Linked DNA regions of Homo sapiens. The protein of the gene in region 1 interacts with the protein of each later gene in a pairwise test. Each region holds a gene or a part of one and is shown on either strand. Other genes may lie near its edges.

The links. Proteins that work in one complex are often made in the same cells at the same time.
Region 2: the proteins of IL16 (region 1) and TFIP11 interact in binary tests that used the Homo sapiens proteins (3 or more experiments, as listed by UniProt).

The regions. Positions count from the first base shown.
Region 1 is NC_000015.10:81,199,879-81,203,378, reverse strand, and holds part of IL16 (pro-interleukin-16), read right to left. Parts: intron 2,979-3,500; exon of another isoform or gene 2,909-2,978; intron 1-2,908. UniProt on the Homo sapiens protein: Interleukin-16 stimulates a migratory response in CD4+ lymphocytes, monocytes, and eosinophils. Primes CD4+ T-cells for IL-2 and IL-15 responsiveness. Also induces T-lymphocyte expression of interleukin 2 receptor. Ligand for CD4.
Region 2 is NC_000022.11:26,493,107-26,495,473, forward strand, and holds part of TFIP11 (tuftelin-interacting protein 11), read right to left. Parts: intron 1,834-2,367; coding exon 1,691-1,833; intron 1,553-1,690; exon of another isoform or gene 1,199-1,552; coding exon 1,033-1,198; exon of another isoform or gene 1-1,032. UniProt on the Homo sapiens protein: Involved in pre-mRNA splicing, specifically in spliceosome disassembly during late-stage splicing events. Intron turnover seems to proceed through reactions in two lariat-intron associated complexes termed Intron Large (IL) and Intron Small (IS).

The sequences.
Region 1 (3,500 bases):
TAAAACACCAAAAGCAATGGCAACAAAAGACAAAATTGACCAATGGGATCTAATTAAACTAAAGAGCTTCTGCACAGCAAAAGAAACTACCATCAGAGTGAACAGGCAACTGACAGAATGGGAGAAAATTTTTGCAACCTACTCATCTGACAAAGGGCTAATATCCAGAATCTACAATGAACTCAAACAAATTTACAAGAAAAAAACAACCCCATCAAAAAGTGGGTGAAGGATATGAACAGACACTTCTCAAAAGAAGACATTTACGCAGCCAACAGACACATGAAAAAGTGCTCATCATCACTGGCCATCAGAGAAATGCAAATCAAAACCACAATGAGATATCATCTCACACCAGTTAGAATGGTGATCATTAAAAAGTCAGGAAACAACAGGTGCTGGAGAGGATGTGGAGAAATAGGAACACTTTTACACTGTTGGTGGGACTGTAAACTAGTTCAACCATTGTGGAAGTCAGTGTGGCGATTCCTCAGGGATCTAGAACTAGGAATACCATTTGACCCAGCCATCCCATTACTGGGTATATACCCAAAAGATTATAAATCATGCTGCTATAAAGACACATGCACACGTATGTTTATTGGGGCACTATTCACAATAGCAAAGACTTGGAACCAACCTAAATGTCCAACAATGATAGACTGGATTAAGAAAATGTGGCACATATACACCATGGAATACTATGCAGCCATAAAAAATGATGAGTTCATGTCCTTTGTAGGGACATGGATGAAACTGGAAACCATCATTCTCAGCAAACTATTGCAAGGACAAAAAACCAAACACTGCATGTTCTCACTCATAGGTGGAATTGAACAATGAGAACACATGGACACAGGAAGGGGAACATCACACACTGGGGACTGTTGTGGGTGTAGGGAGGGGGGAGGGATAGCATTAGGAGATATGCCTTCCAAATTTTCTATAGTCCTTGATGATGCTAAATTTTCATCACTCTTCAAACCCTATTTTTGGATAACACTTCTTTAAAATGAAACCACAAACCAATACAGACCCCCAAAGCTGTCTGTGCTCTGAGAACAGGTTCTTCCACTACCAAAGCACTCATCTGATGCTACTCCAGTGGCTTGTGTCACCACTGGTCATGTCTACTGAACTCTAAGCTCCCTGAGGGCAGAGTCTGTCTGTCATATTTCGAGTTGATCCATGAGGCCTAGCTTGGCGAATGGCCTCTATCAATTGCTCAGTAAATATTTGTTGAATGACTAAGGATGATTGCATTTAATGTTTAAAGGTGTTCTCTGGCCAGATAAAATGTATAAAGTAGGAAAAGACATTTTACATACTGTACAACACCTTTGCTTGGGCTAATTCTTCTGGGGAACTAATAGTTCACTTAGTAACCCCATCTCTGGTTCAAATCTGATGAATTGCCTATGCTTACTTGCCTTATATTGTAAGTGATCATCAAGATACATGGAATACTGTTGAGATATGGAGAAGAATGAGGTTAAGTCTTTTTGTGCTACATAGAATTGGAAAACAAAACATGCTGCAGCACAGTGTGTGCGCGTGTGTGTGTCTGATGCTAGAATAAATCAGAGAGAATACTCAACAAGCTGTTATTGAAGAGCAGAGAATGGGTAAAAACTGATTACTCTACATTTTACTAATTACAGCATTTTTACCAAACACAAAATTTAATATTAAAGATTAAAATACAAAGTGGCAATATAATAAATTGCTAATAAATTTGTATACACCACTTAACTACAACCTAAAAAGAAAAAGAGGGAAAAACAAAAACCACAAACTTAAAACAAAGAAACCCAAAATATGATCTGCCTACTGGAAGAAATAGAAGTAGGAAAGTGGCTCAAAAAGTTGTTCGTGGATGAACAACTAAGATCTCCTTCCTGGAGAACTAAGGGCAGGGCCATTAAATTAGACATTTCGTGATCTCTAAATAGAACTGAGAGGAGATTCAAAGAAATGCAAAATAACAGCTATAGAGCATTATGGAGTCTTTGGCCTGAAAGAATTTTTCAGATTTTGATGGTCCAACTGCTGTCATTTACTTCTGTGTGTGTGTGTGTGGATGGGGGTGTGTGCGTGCATGTGTGTGGGTGTATGTGTGATTGCTTTGGCTTGAGTTTTGGTAAGAAATTACATATCATGTCTTTTAAGATTATTTTTAGATATATTTCTCTTTTTCACCACACATACACACACACACACACAGAGACACACACACACTTTTTATTTTCTGCTTCTGACAACTAGCTCAATGCAGGGGATGCATTGTCCTGCCACTGCTTCAGTAAATGTGACAGGTATCCTGTGTTCTCAGCAACTGCTGCAGGATTCTCTGGCATCTGCACTTTGGCTGGAGTTGGCTACAACCATCCTTGGAGGATGAGGAGAAGGAAGGAAGAGAGGGAAAGCGCATAAGACTGGGCCACCTGTCCACCTTCTCCAACCCTCACCATTGCTCGAGGCTCTCTTAATCCATTTATGAGGAGGTAAGTACAGAAAAAAAGACAGATGAGCTTATGGCTGACTCAGGCCTGAAATCCTTGCCTTGGATAATGGGAAGAAGGCCATCTTTTTGAAAGAGAAGATCAGGAATATTTCAGTTACAATACTCTCCTGACACATTTTCACCATTCCAAACTCCACCCAGTGTTCTACAGGACTATTTATGAAACTTTTAAAATCTTGACCTAGGCTAGGCATGGTGGCTCACGACTTTAATTCCAGCACTTTGGGAGGTTGAGGCGAGCAGATCACTCGAGCTCAAGAGTTTGAGACCAGCCTGGCCAACATGGCAAAACCCCATCTCTAATAAAAATACAAAAAATTATCCAGGTGTGGTGGCGTGTGCCTGTAGTCCCAGCTACTCGGGAGGCTGAAGGGGGAGAATCACCTGAGCTCACGGAGTCAAGGCTGCAGTGAGCCGGGATTGCACTGCTGAACTCCAGCCTGGGCAACAGAGTGAGACCCTGTTTCAAAAAATAAATAGATAAATAAATAAAAATAATTTTTAAAGAATTTTAAAAATTAAAAAAATCTTGACTTACCATAATAATTTACATTTTACATCATAGTACATGGATCACATACACATAAGATTTATATGTATACATAAATAAATAAATATATATAACTAAAAACTTTCATGAAACAATACCTTTACTACGGTATAATAAAAATAATATAAAATATCTTTGGTATGAAAAAGATAATATAAAATATGATTTTGCTAAGAACCTGATGCAATCTGATGTATGCTATTCTTTTTTTGTTTTAGAAAAAGGAAGTTGGTTCCAACCCGCTAAGTTGATTTTCAATCCACTAGTGGGTCATGCTTGAAAACCACTACTTTCAGGTTTTCTCTGATTTTTTACAGCAATTCCATATGGGGTATTTGCTTTGATTCCTCATTTAGCTCCCTTCTTTGGGCCACTGAATCTTGTCATATGTGCATTGATTTTGCCGCATTTGCTCAGCCCTACTCA
Region 2 (2,367 bases), on another chromosome or scaffold:
AACCTCTGCCTCCCAGGTTTAAGCGATTCTTCTGCCTCAGCCTCCTAAGTAGCTGGCATTACAGGCATGTGCCACCGCGCCCGGCTAATTTTTGCATTTTTAGTAGAGACGGGGTTTCACCATGTTGGTCAGGCTGGTCTCGAACTCCTGACCTCGTGATCTACCCGCCTCGGCCTCCCAAAGTGCTAGGATTACAGGCGTGAGCCACCGTGCCTGGCCTAGGCTATTAAATAACAAGAATTAAAGACTCAGGAAATAGAAATTCCAGTTCTAACTGCCACCCTTTAACTATGTGACCTTGAACAGGCTCTCAGCCTCGCTGGGCTTATCTGTAAAACACAGACTAGACGATCCCATTTCAATGCTGCGAATCGGCTAATGAGCAACACTGGAGCACAGGACTGGTTGAAATAGGCTCCCAAATGTAGAAACATAAATATACTCTCACTTACTTATGATCTAGGCAGAATGACTTACCTAGAACTTGGGAACAGATATAGTACACGAACAGTGAACTGCCTGTTTTTGACAACACAGACACCACCTATTGAAGGCTATACACAAGCATGAACTCACTCTCCCTTTTAGCCTATAAAGTAGATCTTACTGTTTAACAGGTAAAATGGGGCTGATTAAGGCTGAGCAATCACCAAGTGTCAGACCGCGTGCCAAACTCCACACTGTAAGATGCGTCACCTAAGCAGCATGCTCAGGCATGAATGAGCCTTAAAAGGCCACACAGCACAGTGGTTAAGAGGGCGGGGCCTGGGGTTAGACTGACATCATCTGAATCCAGCTTAAGTCAGTCTCCACTCAGGGAAGATGCCCCTCTCAGTCATGGTAGACCTGGGCAGTGGGTGCCAGCTGACCATGTACCCCAGTCAGCAGGGTGAGAGTCTGTTGCTATGTGCAAAAGTGTGACCTAAGGTTTAGGCTGCCTACAGGAACCAGAAAACTCTGATTCTGTGTCATTTACATGTGTAAAATCTGAAACTTGGGGCCAGGACATCCAAAATGGGAATCCTCACTTACCAACGTTGGAGGACACCGCCCGGTTCATGATATCAAGTGCCTCATTAAATTTGTCCTTGACAGATGGATGTGCCAGCACTTGGTCTGAGAACATCGACTTCCAACCCAGGTACCACTTGGTGATCTCCTCATAATTTGGGCTGTTACTGAGCCAAGAGCACAGCACCTGCCAAAAAGAAAAATTACTTGCATCCATCGTGGCAACAAATGAAGGCAAGATTTCTGAAGTGGCCATTTGTTTTGTTTTGATCCTGGTCCTACAGGCTAGTGACACTACTTTACAGGGATTTATAGTAGCTAAACAGTCTAGCACTTATGAATATGGATTTTGGAGTCAGCCTGGTAGCTAAAGTGCCCTTGCATGTAAACTCTCTGAGCCTCAGCTTCCATGTCTACACAACAGGGATACCATATCCCCTACCCCATAGGGTTGCTGAGAGGAGCTGAGATAAAGCAAATAAAGTGCTTGGAACAGCTTCTGATACATGGCAAATGTCCAATAAATGGTGCCCACTATGAAGATGACCTAACTCATTCCTACCCTACCATGTAATTTATTTTCATTATGGAATTGTACCTACAGTCAGGCCTTGGCAGAAAATTAACTTAATCCCCACCCAGTTCCCTCCCCCAGAAATCCAAGCAAAACAAAGTGTACCTGAAGCCACTTGGGGAAGAAGTGCTTTTCAAGAAGTCCCACCAGGCTAGAGACAGAGATCATCCCTTCCCAGTCAATCACCCAATAGAATGCATCCATGTGCTGCTGGTGGGGGTTAATGACTAGCTCACCAAGACACATCCCTGGAAGAGAAACCCGGTCTGTAAGGCACAGCTTTAGTACTGGCAAAGCCAAAGAAGCACAAAGAGCAAAGACAATGTCCGTTTTCATCTCAGCTTACAGCAACCTCCGCCTCCCGGGTTCAAGTGACTCTTGTGCCTCAGCCTCCCGAGTAGCTGGGAGTACAGGTGTGCACCACCGTGGCCAACTAATTTTTGTGTTTTTATTAGAGACAGCGTTTTGGCATGTTGCCCAGGCTGGTCTCAAACTCCTGGTCTCAGGTGATCTGCCCACCTCAGCCTCCCAAAGGGCTGGGATTACAGGCATAAGTCACAACTCCTGGCTTTTTTTTTTTTTTTTTTTTTTTTTTTTTTTTTTTGTTGAGACAGGGTCTCACTGTTGCCCAGGCTGAAGTGCAATGGCAGATCTTGGCTCACTGCAACCTCTGCCTCCGAGGTTCAAGCCATCCTCCCGCCTCAGCCTCCCTAGTAGCTGGGACGACAGGCGCCCGCCACCACACCTGGCTGGTTTGTATTTTTGGTAGAGATGGGGTTTCA